2 separate regions of the Homo sapiens genome follow, and region 2 is linked to region 1. A link means that fine-mapping ties the variant in region 1 to the expression of a gene that starts in the linked region. Tissue or cell type: whole blood. Region 1 holds a variant in brackets; the other region holds the start of a gene. All regions are shown on one strand. Distances are between the middles of the regions. Region 1 overlaps PHTF2 (putative homeodomain transcription factor 2). Region 2 holds the start of RSBN1L (round spermatid basic protein 1 like).

Region 1 (9,039 bases):
CTCACTTCAGGAACAAAGTGATCACTCTAGGTAGGTGGCTTTAAGGTAGCATTTGTTGAGCCCCTGCTTTGTGCCAGGTTTGTATTCAAAGTTCCCATGCTCATTTAATTTTTAACAGCTTTTTAAAGGAGTGCAGGATTAATGATAAGAGGTAGGAGCATAATTAAGGCCTAGGGTGGAACATAATCAAAGCAAAGAACAAGCCATGCTTAGGGGCTCAGAAGTAGCCTACTGTCACTGGAGTAAAAGGTTACGGTATGTAGTGGAAGACAAGGTCAAAAAGTAGCACATATGAAGATGAGCATGCTAGGTGAAGGAATCGGAACTTTATCCAGGAGAGCAGTGAGAAGCCAAGGAAAGATTTTGACTAGAGGAGTCAAAGAACAGCTGTGCTTTAGGAAGGTTAATCTGGAAAGAAGAGGAAGGCCTTTTAGGCAAAGATCAATTAGGAGGTGCTTATAGCAATGAAGGTATAAATGATAAAGTCTGAAGTCGGTGATAGCAAAGGAAAGACAAAAGGATAAATATAATGCATTTTAAAGGTACATGACAAATCTAGTCACAGAGGACAGCCAAAAAAAAAAAAATTGAAGATACCTGGCCATAAGGATGACTATGACCATGATTTATTCAGTAAAAGTTTTTTAATTAATTTAAATCAAAATTTTACTCATCTTTATTTTGTACATTGCAAACTCCCAGGATAAAGTAAACTGATTAGAAATTACTTAACTTGTTTTAATTTTTTACTTTTATACCACAGATTATCTCAAGAACATGAGTTGGCAGTTACCTTCTTGGTTTAAATATCAATTTTATGTTGATTTCACTTCCATTTGTGAAACAAAAACAGTAGATAAATCCACTCTTGCTTAAAAAAAAAAAGACTAGAATAAGAAAATACAGTCATTCCTGGGTATCCACGTGAGATTGGTAGATATCCGGCCCTTCTATAAATACCAAAATCCAAGGATTCTCAAATCTCACAGTCAGCCCTGTGGAACCTGATGACACATAAGTCAGCCCTCGCCCTCCATTTCTCCAAAACTGTGGGTTCTGCATCTCAGGAATATTGTATTTTCTATCTGCAGATGTGGAATGCATGGATATGGGAGGCCAATGGTATTGCCATTAATAACATCAATTAAAGTCAGTTAATGTTCACCGTGCAGACCGTATGAACTTAGACTACTTAGACTACTCTCTCTGCCTACCTGAGTTGTGAACTTCATATAAAATTTAAGAGAAAATAGATACAACCTTTGTATGCAAAGTAATATCTGAGCTGAAATATGAAATCAAATAAATTTTGATGTGAAGGTATTTTGTTACTGAATAAAAGCTAATATATTTTGTAATGTTTTGCTGTCTCACTATCTTTTGAGGGTGTATTTGTTGTTTTAGCAAAAAGTATCAATATATGGGTTCTGATAGTATCCTTTGAGTTGGAAAGAGTACATAAATTGTATTAATGTCAAAGAATATCTTGATTTCAGGACGCCCCTAAATCGGGTACTAGTTGCAGCTCTCGCTGTTCAAGTTCCAGACAGGATTCTGAGAGTGCAAGGCCAGAATCTGAAACAGAAGATGTGTTATGGGAAGACTTGTTACATTGTGCAGAATGCCATTCATCTTGTACCAGTGAGACAGATGTGGAAAATCATCAGATTAATCCATGTGTGAAAAAAGAATATAGAGATGACCCTTTTCATCAGGTTGGTTTATGGTTTTGGCTTATGTGGAGCTATGAGTCAAGCTCCTTTGAATTTATGTTCAAATGTTACAGAGGTGAAGAAAAAGCTTACATTCAAGCTTATATTTCTATAATTTTTTTTCTTTTTATGTGAGCTGTGGTCTGGCTTCATCAAAACATAGAATCTCAGTACTTATATTGTGGTTATGTATGTTCCTGAAAAGTTATTGGTAACTGGAGTTTCGTAAGTCAAATCGTGTGTTAGGTGCAATAGTACTTTCTTACTGAACATACTTTGTGGCCAGATGCATGTACACCTTGGTCTAAACTCCACCTATAAGATTATATTCACAAATCTACATCTCATGAATATCAAATTTGTAGCTCCAAGTGCCCATAGTAATGCTATCCAATGGAAATATTATGAGAGTCAGATGTATAATTTTTAATTTTCTGGTAGCCTCATTAAATATTTTTTAAAGGGGAAATTCAAATATGTTTTATTTAGACCATTATATTCATAATATCACTTTAACATATAACTAATATGAAAAAATTAATGAAATATTTTACATTTTTAATACTAAATCTTCAAAATCTGGTGTAAACACTTAGAGCACATCTCATTTTGGACTAGCCACATTTTTTTTTTTTTTTTTTTTTGAGATGGAGTCTGTCCCTCTTGTCACCCAGGCTGGAGTACAATGGCACGATCTTGACTCACTGCAACCTTCGCCTCCCAGGTTCCAGCGATTCTCCTGCCTCAGCCTTCTGAGTAGTAGGGATTACAGGCGCCCGCCACCACACCCGGCTAATTTTTATGTTATTAGTAGAGACAGGCTTTCACCATGTTGGCCAGGCTGGTCTCGAACTCCTGACCTCAAGTGATTCTCCCACCTCAGCCTCCCAAAGTGCTGGGATTACAGGCATAAGCCACCCTGCCCAGTCGGACTAGCCACATTTCAAATGCTGAATAGCCACATGTGAGGAGGGTACTATATTGGACAGCACGATTTTATAGGATATCTTTATTTGAATGTCCCACCAATACCTCAAATTTAACCAGTCCTCCCTCATAAATCTGTTTTTCTTATTCCATTCAAAATTTTGGTGAATGACATCTCCATTCATCTACTCACTAGTCCAGAAACTTGGTGGTCATTTAAAATTCCCCTCTTCTTCACCTTCTCTCTCTTATCCAACTCCTTATCTAATCCTGTCAAACCAAGTAAAGTCAGAAAACTCGAGAAAAAAAAGAGAACTTTCAATCTGATAAAAGGGTGATGCATAGCTATCAAAGAACCTTCTGCTATAACAATCCCAGAGGCTGGGTGGCTTAAACAACAAACATTTATTTCTCACAGTTCTGAGGCCTGGAAGTCCAAGATCAGGGTGCCAGCATGATTGGTTCTTGGTAAAGGTTCTCTTCCTGGTTTACAACAGCTATCTTATCCTTGTATCCTTACACGGTGGAAATAAGGGAGCTCTGGTCTCTTTACCTCTGTCTGGTTTTGGTTGGAGTTAGGCTGATTTAAAGTCCATATTAAAGAGCAAAATATCAAGAATAGCAAAAACAATTTTGAAGAACAACAGGGATCTTTCCCTACTGGATATAAAAATTTACTTTCAATTTAATACTCAAGATAGTATAGTATAGACATATAAACATATATACCGATGGAACAGAATAGAAAACTCAGAAATAGACATTTGTTTATAATGGATCACTAATACATGACAATAAGTGGCATTACAAGTCAGTAGAAAAAGAACGGACTATATGGTTGTGAGTCAAATGATTATACACTTGAAAATTTATTCCAAATAGTTTCTAAAGGTGAAAAGCGAAACTTTAAAGCATTTAGAAGAAAATACAGGAGAAAAATCTTTATTACTTCAGGTTAGAGAAGAATTTTTAAAAACAAGATATAAAAAGCACAAACAAAAATGGAGAGATAAATTTGAATATCTTAAGATTTAAAACTTTGGGCGTGTTAAAAGATGAGCCACAGGCTGGGAGAAGATATTTCCAATACATTAACTATCACAGTGTTACTACATACAGGACATAAAGAACTCCTACAGATGAATAAGTAAAAGACAAATGACTCAATAGAAAAATAAAAGGATGTGAACAGGTCCCCTGATGGCTAATAAAATATAAGTGAAGATGGTCAGCCTTGCTATTAGTTAGGGAAATGTAAATTAGAACAATTAGATACTACTTAATATTGATCAAATTGTCAAAATTTAAAACCTGATAAATTTCAATGTTGGCAAGAATGTGAAGAGAGAACTCTTTAATACTGATGTTTGTTTGTACAGCTACTTTGAAGAGCAGTTTGTCATTATATAGTAAAGTTGAAGTTCTATATATTCTAGGACCCTTTCATTCCAATTTAGAATGAAACTTTAGAAGATAGGCACTATCATTGCATTGTGCATGATAGTGAAAGTTGAAAATATAATAGCCAATAATAGTGGAATTAATAAATAATGTTGTATGATAAAACAGTATACAGCAGTGAAATTGAATGAACTCGGCTGCATGTATCAACATGAATAAGTTTTTGAATATAATTTTGAATGAAAAAGGCAAGCTGCCTTTACTTTAAATAACCCTGTCTCTACTGAAAATACAAAAATTAGCCAGGCGTGGTGACAGGCACCTGTAATCCCAGCTACTCTGGAAGCTGAGGCATAAGAATCACTTGAACCTGGGAGGCAGGGCTTAGCAGTGAGCTGAGATGGCGCTATTGCACTCCAGCCTGAGCGACAGAGCGGACTCTGTCTCAAAAATAAAATAAAAAATAAAAAGGATGGCTATGAATGTTTAGAAAAAACAAAGTGGTAATTAGGGAAATTGAGCTGGAGTGTTTTGGTGTTGACTCCCTAATATATGAGATATTTGAAAACATTGATATATACAGGAGAAAACAGGTAGGGAAGAATCAAAGAGATACGGAAGAAAATGTTGACTGGTGGAATGATTTCTTAGGATTCTGGAGGGGAATCATAATCAGGAAGCTTAGCATTTGACAGGAAGAGGAAAACATCCTCTGCTGAGATAGGAGGATAAGGATGAGTGCATGCAGCAAGCAAGATGGTAAGAGAGTTATTGCCTGATGATCTTTTTTCCGTGAAGTGCAAGAGTCCAAGGGATCTACTGGCAATAAGCGAGATGATACAAGAGGAGGCTTTTGGATGGTGGTGAAGGCTTTAAGTTACCATTTGTGGAGAATGGAGAAAGGGGACAGAGAGAGGGAGAGAGAGAAAGAGGAAGAGAGAGAGAGAGAAAGAGAGAGAGAGAGAGAGAGTGTGTGTGTGTGTGTGTGTGTGTGTGTGTGTGTGTTCAAGCCAATGAACACATCAAAACAATCATACTGCCTTGCCACATTGTTGAGGGTCCAGCTGGAATCTGAAACCATGAATTTGTAGTTGCCTATTCTACACAGCTATGTGATGTTTTCTGGAATGTAGTTGTTACTATATCTGACATTTAATAAGCATTTACTTATGCCACACACTGTGCAAAGTAATCTAGTTGCATTATCTCATGTATTTAACCTTTACAACCTGTGGTAATGTAGTTTATTTTCATTTTACATTGCTCAGAGTTGAGTAATGTGCCCAAAGTCACACAGAGTAAGTGTTCAATAAATAGTTGCCACGCCTGTAATCCCAGCACTTTGGGAGGCCGAGGCGGGTGGATCACAAGGTTAGGAGATCGAGATCATCCTGGCTAACACGGTGAAACCCCATCTCTACTAAAAATACAAAAAATTAGCCGGGCGTGGTGGCGGG[T/C]GCCTGTAATCCCAGTTACTCAGGAGGCTGAGGCAGGAGAATGGCGTGAACCCAGGAGGTAGAGCTTGCAGTGAGCCGAGATGGCACCACTGCACTCCAGCCTGGGCAACAGAGCGAGACTCCGTCTCAAAAAAATAATAATAATAAAATAAATAAATAAATAGTTGCTCTTCAAGGGACAGGAGAGGGGATGATTGAAATGGTGGATCTGGTGGCAGTCTAGTCATTAAATTGTTAGATTGAGAAGGAAATGAAATCAGGAAGGGACTGATAAATTTAAGGATAGGTGTGTTCAAGGGAACAAGTGTTTCAGAATTGAAGCTTTGAGAGACCAGGTAAGATGGGAAGTTGTAGTAGATTCCTTTCAGAAGTAGAGCAGTTCCGTATGGTGACAAGGTCTAGGGTGTGGCTGTGGGAGTAGCGTCCTTGGGATTGAAGAAATGAAAAAGTGAACAATCCATGAAAGCATAGGGTGTTGAATGAGTCATCTGCATATTCATCTAAGTCACTGAGACTAACAACTGGAGTTAAGATTGAGGGAAATGCCTGTGAGCTATTTTCCCAGAGATAACTATAAGCAGCATAAAAGCAGGGACCATGTGTTTTTTTTTTTTTTTTTTGCTCAGTGTTGTATCACACAGCGTGAGGTACACAGTAGGTATTTAATAAATATTGAATGCCTGAAACAAAATTAAATTTTTTCAAAACATGCCAATTAGGCCTTTCTTAAATGATTTAAAAAATTGTTTTATGATGTCTGTGCAGAGTAAATTGCTCCTAAGTCTGTCACACCAGTCGGCTACCTTTTTGGTAAGATAAAATTTGTTAATGCTCTACTCTGTATATCTAATTATGGTATCCTAGGCTTATATTGGTTTTGCTTTTAGATTAAAGACTTGATCTTAAACAGATTTTTAATTCTCAGGTTTCAAAAAATAAGCTCATGCTTTTAGTTTTACTAGTAGCTAAGTAATGGAAATTAGCTCCCTTTTACTAAAAAGCTACTAGTTTTTTTTCTTGTTTAACCAGTCTGTTAGGTTTGGAAGACCTTTTTCTGTCTGCTATACAGATGGAAAAATCCCTTCTCATGAAAAAACACTGAGCATTTGAATTAGTATGTTCTAATCAGAATATTCCCAAATGTGTATCTTTATTTCATTGTTTTATTTTGTTTGTAAATAGTAATTGAAACATTTCCACAGAAGAAAATTTTTCTCCTATAGCCCTCCTCTATAGCTGAATATATACTAAAATATAAAGCTATATTCAGCTGAAATTCAGTTTTTAGTAAGTGTAAAGCTTTAAATGGCTGCATTCCCACAGTTGGAAACACGAGTATGTGGTTGGCATGGTGAATTTATTTGAAATAAAACATGCCACCATTTAAGCAATAAGGTTTTCAGGTAGTTTTGAATGAATAAGGAGCAAAGCAGTTGAGATTTTAAGTGAGGATAAAGTATAATCATTTTAGAAGTTCTAAATTTTTGGATCTGTGATGCTGTCTTCAAAGGTAAAAAAAAATTTTAAGTTCTAAATTTTAGTTTGAAAACATATATAGCGGCCGGGCATGGTGGCTCACGCCTCTAATCCCAGCTTGGGAGGCCAAGGCGGGTGGATTACTTGAGGTCAGGAGTTCGAGACCAGCCTGGCAACATGGTGAAACTCCATCTCTATTAAAAATACAAAAATTAGTCGGGCATGGTGGTGGGCACGGTGGCAGGCACCTGTAATCCCAGCTGCTCAGGAGGCTGAGGCATGAGCATTGCTTGAACCCGGGAGGCGAAGGTTTCAGTTAGCCAAGAACCACACTCCAGCCTGGGCAGTGGAGCCCAACACAGTCTCAAAAAAAAAAAGAAAAAAGAAAATGTATTTAGAGTAACCTATGTGATAAAATTATAAAATGAAATTATTTGCTCTGATGTTTTCCCTGAACCTTTTAAAAAAAATTTCATGTGATGCTGTTCTCCACACTGCAGACATGATTCAACAAGACTGTTTTTCAGTGTACATTCCCCCCCCCCACACACACACACAGAGGAATATAGCAGTCTTTTTTATTTATTTTTTCAAGTTTCTACACACAACATTGAACATGTAATTTACCCTTTTTTTTTTTTTTTTTTTTTTTTTTCAGACGGAGTCCCACTCTGTCGCCCAGGCTGGAGTGCAGTGGCGCGATCTCGGCTCACTTCAAGCTCTGCCTCCCGGGTTCACGCCATTCTCTTGCCTCAGCCTCCCCAGTACCTGGGACTACAGGCACCAGCCACCATGCCTGGCTGATTTCTTTTTGTATTTTTAGTAGAGACGGGGTTTCACCGTGTTAGCCAGGATGGCTACTATCTCCTGACCTCGTGATCCGCCCACCTCAGCCTCCCAAAGTGCTGGGATTACAGGCGTGAGCCACCGCGCCCGGCGTAATTAACTCTTTTAAAATTCACCAGTTTCTAGTTGCTGTCTTCTCTTTTGCCTTTTGGCATTCTAGAAATAATGTAATATCAGATGCTGGATAGAGTAATTGGCAAGGTAGCTAGATGTAAAAGGAGTGCTTTTGGGAGGACAATGAGAATGTCCTGATTTCCTATTTCTGTCTCTAGATGGGCTTTCTTGGTATTGATATTCCTTTCTTCATGTAATTAGGAAGACCTTAATTCACTATTCCAGACTGAGAGTTTAAAAATGTCTGTAAATCAGTGGTTGAAATCTGTTGGCTCTCAAGCTTAAACTTCTTTCCTTTTAGCTTCTTGCACTTCCTGTTTCTGGCTTTTTGGTTTCCTTACGCTTAACAATTGTAAAATTTCTAGTGAAAGTTTGATACATATTTTGGTACAGATTATTTCTTTCCCAAAACAGAATATTTTGTTTGGAGATAAATGAGGAAATAACATTTGAGAAATTAAGTTGGTAGTTAATAACTAGTATCTTAGCACTCTTCAGGACCTCAAGTAGTGAAATGTATACCATGAAAGTTAAAGTATATTAAAATCCTTCATCTCTAGAAAAGATAAAAATTTCCCACCTCTTTTTTTTTACATTATTGAATTATTATTATTCAACTTTAGTTGAAATTAATCAATGCAACTTTACTCCCCCTAGAGGAAAGTGTTAAAAGTTTACAAGAAACATTTTTTTTACCATATTTTAATCACATTTTTGTCCTCTAAAGAATAAATGTACCTAGAGTAGATTCTTCTGTTCATTGTTAGAAGTTATATTTAATGAAATATTTTATAAAATTTGAGGTTGCTACGAATGCCAAAACTATTGTTTTTAGAAAATGTGGGAAGTGGCCAGACACCGTGGCTCACGCCTGTAATCCCAGCACTTTGGGAGGCTTAGGTGGGCAGATCACAAGTTCAGGAGTTCGAGACCAACCTGGTCAACATGGTGAAACCCCGTCTCTACAAAAATTTAAAGATTAGCTGGGCGTGGTGGTGGGCGCCTATAGTCCCAGCTACTTGGGAGGCTGAGGCAGGAGAATCACTTGAACCTGGGAGGCGGAGGTTGCAGTGAGCTGAGATCGCACCATTGCACTCCAGCCTGAG
Region 2 (9,039 bases), 240 kb before region 1:
TCTGGAGATTAAAGACCTGTTAGTTTGAAATAGAAGAAGGGGATAGTTCATGAAAGGTCTTACAGGACACATTAAGGATTTTGTTTTTTGTCCCGAGAGCAATGAAAGCCATTGACTTCAGGTCTGAAGCAAGGCAAGAGAGATGGTCAGATCCAGGTTTTTTCGTTTTCGTTTTTTTTTTTTTTTTGAGACAGAGTCTCATTCTGTCGCCCAGGCTGGAGTGCAGTGGCGTGATCTTGGCTCGCTGCAACCTCCGTCTCCCAGATTCAAGCGATTCTCTACCACAGCCTCCCGAGTAGCTGGACTACAAGGACGTGCCACCATGCCCAGCTAATTTTTGTATTTTTAGTAGAGACAAAGTTTCACCATGTTGGCTAGGCTGGTCTCAAACTCCTGACCTCAGGTGATCTGCCTGCCTCGGCCTCCCAAAGTGCTGGGATTACAGGCATGAGCCACTGTACCCGGCCAAGGTTTTGAAAAGAGCTTTCTAGCTGTAGAATGGAAAACCTATATGAGATTATAAAGAGATTATGCTAAAAGAAATTGGTGATAGTGGTAGAAAACCTCTGCCAGTTAAGTGTTGACAAGAATAATCTAGTTGAAAGGGAATGGCTAATTACACAGCACAGAAAAGAGATAGTTGCGCATGTTTTAATAACAGACAAGTCCTGTCTTTAGATCTGGGTAAGGGGCCTCTGTTTACTTGGCCCTCCTCTTGCTGTAAAGAACAAGGAGCCCATGAGGTCAGGGGCCATGTCTGCCTGGAGCCTGCCCTCCTCTTTTAGACTGGCTAGATCTGAGGGCAGAGTGAGCTGCCGATTGTACATCACCATTTGCGGAGTAGGGGGATGTGGACATACACCTGGACATGTTGGGTGCATGTATGGCCTTTCCGTGTGGCAGGTGAACTTGGGGATGGGAGGAGAATGGGGTCAGTGTGGGGACTCTAAGAACTCTAAATTCAAACATGGACTTCCAGATCATATGAAAGTGGATCTGTCAAGGTAGTAGAATAGAATGTATTTTATATAATAGTTTGTTATCTTGATTTATTTTTTAAATATTTAGACAGATGGTGTGTGGACCTCTATAGCCACACTCTTGCTTAGGCTCTACAAATTAAGTGCCAGGCCTAATAACAGTGCATGAAAGTATAATGTAATGCAAGGAGTAACAAATTCATGCAGGCAAGGGTGTAGTTTAACTGGGCTCTTAAGAAGTCCGATTTTCCAGACCTGTGTGCTAGAGATTAGAGAATGAGTGGTGCAAGTTTCCAGGCACTACATTAATGTATGTTAGAGACACTTTTCTAGATCAGGAGGGCCAACAATTAAAAAATGAATTCAATTGTAATGGTTTCGGTGTGATTTTGAAAAGCTTCTTGAATATGGCATAAGTTGAGTGTGGAAGGGACCTTAGTGATCACGTAATCAAATATGCTAACTCAACAGGTAAGAAAACGGAGGTCCTAACAAGTGAAGCAGCCTGACTAAGGTCACGAAACTAGTGCGTTAGCAGATGATTTCCAGCCTAATCCACTCAGTCCACTCTCCCACCAATGCTAATTTTCTTGAAGACATCTGCTGCCAGTCAATTCCAATTAGAAAGTTTTCATGTTACATATTAAATACTGTTATTACTTTAAAAAATTTGAGGCACATAAAAATAAGTCCATAAACCAATATTAAATTTGACTCCAAAACATTCTTTTTTTTTTTTTTGAGATGGAGTCTTACTCTGTCACCCAGGCTGGAGTGCAGTGGCACGATCTCAGCTCACTGCAACCTCCACCTCCAGGGGTCAAGCGAGTCTTTTGTCTTAGCCTCCCGAGGAGCTGGGACTACAAGCACGCACCACCACGCCTGGCTAATTTTTTTTGTATTTTTAGTAGAGACGGGGTTGCACCATGTCAGTCAGGCTGGTTTCAAACTCCTGACCTCAGGTGATCCACCCATCACCGCCTCCTAAAGTCTTGGGATTACATGCGTGAGCCACCCACCACTCTTGGCCGAAAAAAAAAAAATTCTTAAAAATATTCTTAAAAAAATGAGTAAATAGGCACTGTCGCCCCGGGTGGAGTGCAATGGCACGAACTCAGCTTACTGCAACCTCTGCCTTACAGATTCAAGGGATTCTTCTGCCTCAGCCTCCAGAGTAGCTGGGACTACAGGCGCATGCCACTACGCCCAGCTAATTATGTATTTTTAGTAGAGGCAGGGTTTCACTATGTTGGCCAGGCTGGTCTCGAACTCCTGACATTGTGATCTGCCCGCCTTGGCCTCCCAAAGTGCTGGGATTACAGGTATGAGCCACCGCGCCCGGCCACATTCCTTATCTTTTAAGCTAAAACCCATCTCCCCAAATTGCTTATTTTCGAAGCAAAAATCAAAGCACATGCTTACAAAACATCGAACACGCAGTGTGCTTACTAAACGCTAAAATACAGAAACCTAAAAAAACAATTCTTGCTTTTCAAACATCCATAAATAATCGCCAACGAATTTTTCCTGGCAAGTCTACGTTATAATAATAATAATATTATTATTATTATTATTATTTTTTGAGACGGAGTCTTGCCCTGTCGCCCAAGCTGGAGTGCAGTGGCGCAGTCTCGGCTCACTGCAACCTCCGCCTCCTGGGTTCAAGCGATTCTCCTGCCCCAGCCTCCCCAGTAGCTGGGATTACAGGTGCGCGCTTCCATGCCCAGCTAATTTTTGCATTTTTAGTAGAGACGGGGTTTCACCATGTTGGTCAGGCTGGTCTCGAACTTCTGACCTCGTGATCCGCCCGCCCCGGTCTCCCAAAGTGCTGGGATTACAGGTGTGAGCCACCGCGCCCGGCTATAATAATTATTATAAAATTCAAATCTTAAGGCCGCACATGGTGGCTCACGCCTGTAATCCCAGCACTTTGGGAAGCGGAGGTGGGCCGCTCACCTGAGATCAGGAGTTCGAGTCCAGCCTGGCCAACATGGTGAAACCCCGTCTCTAATAAACACAAAAATTAGCCAAGCATGGTGCCGGACGCCTGTAGTCCCTGTTACTGGGGAGGCTGAGGCAGGAGAATCGCTTGAATCTGGGAGGCGGAGGTTGCGGTGAGCCGAGATCGCGCCACGGCACTCCAGCCTCGACAACAGAGCAAAACTCCGTCCCAATAAATAAATAAATAAATAAAATAAAAATCTTAAGGGTCTAGTCACAACAGTTCAAAAGTCTCCAAAGGGAGACTCTCACCTTCAAGCTTGTAAGTAATACTAAAGTTCTAGATTTGCTGGAAGTTATCTCCTTCAATGGATTACAGCACATGATCTAGCAATAATAACGTACCTTGTCACCACATCGAATGATTTTGAACACTTCCCATCAATCGACTACCGACTAACAAAAAGAAGGACTTGATTCCCGGCAATTTTTTCTCTTCTGAACTGAGCATTCCCGAAATCCAGCTTGCTGAACGCGCAGATGCAGGGTGAGAGGCACCCCAGGAAAAATGGAAGGGAAAGTGGTACAAGTTAAAACAGTCTTCGTGGCCGCAGAGACGATCGCTACCTCGGCCATGGCAGATCTGGGGGTCCGGGGCGGGGGTTCTTCCCTGATACCCACCGGGCACGCGAGTTCACGCCAGCGACAGTGGAAAGCCCTCCCCTCGCAGCGCGCTCCGCCACTAGCCGCACCCCGCCGAGCTCTGACCTCCGAAGAGGGTCCCTGTGGCGATCCCGCCCCTTCGTCTGATGTTTGTGCCTTTGATTGGCTCTTAGGTGGATCCCTCAGCGTGGCTTGCCCAATGGAGCAATGCCGGCTGGTGGCCTGGCCGCTCCGCCCCTTCCCTACCCCTCGCGGAGGGCCCGCCCCCTGCCCCGCGCCGGCTAGCGGAGGAGAGTAAATACAACAGGAGCGCAAAATGGCGGAACCGCCGAGCCCCGTGCACTGTGTCGCTGCCGCGGCCCCCACCGCCACCGTCTCGGAGAAAGAACCGTTTGGCAAGCTGCAACTCTCCTCCCGGGACCCTCCGGGTTCTCTGTCCGCCAAGAAGGTCCGGACTGAGGAGAAGAAGGCACCGCGGAGAGTGAACGGAGAAGGGGGCAGCGGCGGGAACAGCAGGCAGCTGCAGCCGCCGGCAGCACCTTCGCCTCAGAGCTATGGCAGCCCCGCGTCTTGGAGCTTTGCCCCTCTGTCTGCTGCTCCCTCCCCGTCCTCTTCTCGGAGCAGTTTCTCTTTCTCCGCTGGCACGGCCGTTCCCTCCTCAGCCTCCGCTTCCTTGTCTCAGCCGGTGCCGCGCAAACTGCTGGTCCCTCCTACGCTGCTGCACGCTCAGCCTCACCATCTCCTCCTGCCCGCCGCCGCCGCCGCTGCCTCGGCTAACGCCAAGTCGCGCAGACCTAAGGAGAAGCGGGAGAAGGAGAGGAGGAGGCACGGTCTCGGTGGGGCCCGAGAGGCCGGCGGGGCCTCCCGGGAGGAGAACGGGGAGGTGAAGCCGCTGCCCCGAGGTGGGTGCCGTGCGGGGAGGGGGAGGGGAGGGCGCCGTGGGTCCCCGCCGCCCCCTGGCGCCCACGGGGCCCGGGAAGGGGGAGCGCGGCGGCCGCGTGCGCCGGCCTGGAGGGGCTGGGAGGCGTCCGGTTTTCAGCAGAGGATTTTGCAGTTCCCAAGGGGACAGGAAATGGAGCCTGTAATTTCGGTTGCAGAGAGGGGGATGGCCGACACTCTTATTTTCTGTATCGTTTCTTCCTCCCAGTTAGTGCGCTGCAGGATTTGTGAAAATCCATCTTGAGGACTCTCCTAGGTTTGTTTGGCTAGGGAGAGAGATGGAGGGAACGGGATGGGGGAAGGGTTTGGTTTTGTAAAAGATGCTTGATTGATTGTTAGACCACTTAGACGTGGTCGCGGGAATTCGTATTTGTGACACAGCGTTCAACCCCGGATAATCCTGTCAAAAAAGGGGTGTGGAGAGAGCACTGGCGTCAGCTGGAAGCTACCAGAGGCCTGAGCTTTTCATCCCTATTAGGGAAATGAGGTAGCGTGCAGGGCCCGAAGTGCGCTGTTTCGTAAGGTACCCTCCCTGCACCCTACTCTCCGCTGCGTATTCTTAAGTGTTTTGGGTGGTCCTGTTTGAAATACCACCCTTCTGAAAGAATTTTCAGCCATATTCTTTTTTTCCCTGCAGCAAATGATAAAACCAGGAGCTTTGACGATTTTTCGCCAGATCAAGCGGCTGCAGAATGTTTGAGCATTAGAAAAAGGCGAATTCTTAAGGGTTCTTGTCAGACAGGGTCAGTTTTGTTTTTAAATGTAGGCTAGTCGTATAATTTTTCAGGTGTTTCCACCACTTCAGCTACGGATACACAATGATCTGACAATAGTGCAACATACGGACTAGTTGAAAATCAAATCTTTATGTGATCGCAAGCTTAAAGCGCATAATCTTTATTATAAATGTGCACTGCTACACAGTGTTGTCAAATAACTCTTTTTGTTTTTTAGAAAAAGAAATGTCAAGCAGTTTCAGCATTGCTGATCTAACAGTAGCTCAGATCATGAAAAATTCTGTTTGGATTATAATGGTTTGTTTTCACAACTTAAAACATGCTGCATGTGCATGTAGCAATAGTGTCACTTCTTCCTTGATATTTTTTGCCTGTAGCAAAGCTTTAACATCTAAGCATAGCCATCAGGGACTCTGGTGCAATGTAAATATCTTTCAGCTTCTGGGAGTGTTGTTTCTAGGAAAGTGGTTTTGAGGATGGGATTTTGGTACTTTTAGTCAGGAATTCCAGGTGATTAGTATTTTAAAGCTATTTTGTTTTAACAATTTATATGTAAAATTTAGGAGATAAGTGCCTGGAAGTTTGTCCATATGCAGCTTGGTATCATCACTAGTGTTTGTGGTGTGTAAACTGCACATTTGCTGTAAGTTCTCTGAAAGAGGAAGTGAATATGAGTATTACATAGTTGGAGTAATGGAATATTTGAGAAGAAATAAGTAAGCATTCTTTAACAATTCTAACTTAAAATGTGGAGTACACAAATGGTCCTTAAAGTGAAATGGCTGTTAAAGAGGAATTTTTATAGTCTTTTCAATTACATTTAGAATCCTTCTTCTTTTGAGGGTTAACACTAATATTATTAATCCTGAATATAAACAGTGATAGGTTTTACATTAAGATGTGGGAATGATCTTTTCCCATGACCTATGTGGGTTTTTTGGAGTAGTGACAAGATATTAACACTACTGTAAGATTTTCATTTTTTCAGACACAAATGCTATCTTGTTGAGGAAAAACTATCAGAGAAAAAGATTCCTTTCCAGTGTCTTGGTGGTAAATTTAATGGTGAAAATTTTTCCCTCGTAACTTGGGGAATACTTATATCTTTCTAAAGTTTGGATTTAACTGAATTGATGTTCTGTTTTAACGAATTAAGAAGATTCTTAAATAGCGGTATTAACAAGTGGTATAGCAAGAATACATATATGCCTTTATTATAGATATAATTGCAAATATGAAAGTCCTGATTTGCAATACAATGATCATTTCTCTGTGCTTTTTGTAAAAATCTTAGTGAATGGGTGACCAAGTGTTTGTTTAGGTATATACCTCTTTTTAGTGTTGCCCTAAGTTGGCTGTGCATGGTTCAGTAACCCCTCAATTATCCACAGCTGGCTGATTGAACAGTCTGAGTCAGAACCAGACATTAGCTATAAAGACACCTAAACAAGGAAGAGATTCTCCCTCAACAAAACAAAACTGAACCACACACACTCGAAAGACCTAGCCTGCACCCCAATTTGATTAAACAATTAAGCTCCTGTATTTATTAATAGTAGGGCTTTTAAAAAGTCCTAAGTCAGAACTGCTTTATTTTTACATTGGTGACCATTCTAACAGAACGTATTTGGGTTAAATGAAAGCATGTATAAGAAAGGGCCTAGCAGGGTATTTAGTAAATGTTATTTGAGTCTGAAGCATAGTTATTAATTTTTTAACCCTATAACTAATTGAAAGATGGGTGAATGCTGATAGAGGAAGGATCATTGACAGATATGAAAGTTAAGAATGCTGAACAAGAGAATTATGAAAGTATACTAATATGGCCCCATTTAGTACCAGGGCCTGATGCCTCACAATCTCTAAGGCCATCTAATCATAGTACTGTAGCTGACTTGCGTGATAGCTTGACTCACCAAGTAAAAGTTAAATTTCTTATAAGAAGGAAAAGTGCAAAACAGTTTAGATTTTTTTTTTTTTTTTGGAAACAGAGTCTCGCTCTTGTTGGCCAGGTTGGAGTGCAGTGGCGCGATCTCGGCTCGCTGCAACCTCCGCCTCCCGGGTTCAAGCAATTCTCCTGCCTCAGCCTCCCGAGTGGCTGGAATTATAGGCACTCGCCAACACGCCTGGCTAATTTTTGTATTTTTAGTAGAGAGGGGGTTTCACCATGTTGGCCAGGCTGGTCTCAAACTCCTGACCTTGTGATCTGCCTGCCTTGGCCTCCCAAAGTGCTGAGATTACAGGCGTGAGCCACCGTGCCTGGCCAACATTTTAGATTTTTAAAACCAGAAAATAACCTGATTTTAGTGCTTACGGAGGTAATTTACTGGAGAGTTAATCAATATTCCTGTAAGACTGAATAAATTGTAGAATTGGTAAGTGTGGAAAGTAAAAGTGGACATATACCAAGGGTATCCAAAATTTAGAATTATTTTATGGCAAACCACAACAAATATTTCATTAGCTGTCAGTGTGCCTTCACTGACTCCAGTAACCAGCAAAATTTGTATAGATCTTCTAACTTTTGTTAGTACTTTTGCTTTGTATTTGTTAACTTACTTTTTTCCTTAAAATGACCCTGTGAAGTATTTCAAGACAAAACCAGAGCATTTCACTGAATTTTTGCCTTGAAAGTGTAGTTGCAGGATTTAACTCTAATGAAAATAGCAGCTTTTCTTAGAATCAAATAATTTGAGGTATATAAATGTGAGTGATGTCAAAGGGATGGGTGTCTGAAGATTTTTCTAACTACACTCTCCTCCAGTATTGTTACTGTACAATTTTAGGTTAAATTCATATTCAGAGTTTTTATCATATGACTAAATATTTGTCTCTGCTGAGGGAATAATTTACTATGATTTTATTTTCTTGTGTAACCTTTTGTTTTTCATGTCTCATTTTTTTCATTTGCTTAGTTTTCTCTGGCAGAGTCTTTCTGTACCCTCCAGTAGCTCCATAAAATGCTTCTCAGTACAATTTTCCACATGGGCAAATCTGTCAGATAAACTTACCCATTCCATTTGTTCCTGTAGACATCCCTTCTGGGGCCGGGCGCGGTGGCTCACGCCTGTAATCCCAGCACTTCGGGAGGCTGAAGCTGGCGAATCGCCTGAGCTCAGGAGTTCAACACTAGCCTGGGCAACACGGTGAAACCCCATCTCTACTAAAAATACAAAAAATTAGCCGGGTGTGGCGGCACGCACCTATAGTCTCAGCTACCTGGGAGGCTGAGGCATCGCTTGAACCCAGGAGGCGGAGGTTACAGTAAGCTGAGATGGCGTCACTGTACTCCAGCCTGGGCGACAGAGCAAGACTCTGGCTCAAAAAAAAAAAAAAAAAAACAACAACAACAACAACAACAAAAAAAAACGACATCCCTTCTGTAGCTGTCCTTACTGCTTTAGCCTGGGTTGTTTCCTCTTTAGGCCTGCTGCATAGCTGTCACCTTGGGACTTTCCTTAGTTGACATTCTGGGAATTTCTTTAACTTTTGTTGAATTTTATTTTTCCGGATCTCATGCCTTCCTTTTGGTTTCTTCCTTCATTTTGGATTTTCATTTTGGATTTCATTTTTATCCTTTTACTTGACTGGCAGTTAAGAGATTTCTGCATTGGAAATAATTTTCCCTCAAAAGTTTGAAGGTGGTGTTCCCTTATTGCCTGGTTCCCAAAGTAGATGTTAAGACGTCTGATCTCCAAAAAGTTGTCTATTCTACTATCTGGGGAATGTCAATCCTTTCACTGAATTTTATAATTTATATATTTTTTTCTTTGGTGTTT

What was found. PIP is the estimated chance that this variant, and not a neighbour inherited with it, causes the effect.
Region 2: it holds the start of RSBN1L, and the variant in region 1 is fine-mapped to the expression of RSBN1L in whole blood (TOPMed, PIP 0.98).

Annotation. Positions count from the first base shown.
Region 1 is chr7:77,927,613-77,936,651 of GRCh38, forward strand. It overlaps PHTF2 (putative homeodomain transcription factor 2), which reads left to right. Exons shown (of 19, transcript NM_001395272.1): 11 at 1,497-1,715. Among named protein-coding and RNA genes, the nearest start is that of DDX3ILA1, 58 kb to the right of the region's middle. The variant T/C (reference allele first, on the strand shown) is at 5,498.
Region 2 is chr7:77,692,570-77,701,608 of GRCh38, forward strand. It overlaps RSBN1L (round spermatid basic protein 1 like), which reads left to right and starts at 3,890. Exons shown (of 8, transcript NM_198467.3): 1 at 3,890-4,486. The coding sequence starts at 3,901. It overlaps APTR (Alu-mediated CDKN1A/p21 transcriptional regulator), which reads right to left and starts at 3,696. Exons shown (of 2, transcript NR_134254.1): 1 at 3,327-3,696. RefSeq lists enhancers at 2,985-3,880, 3,881-4,776, 3,961-4,190 and silencers at 3,711-3,930, 4,401-4,720, 5,011-5,110.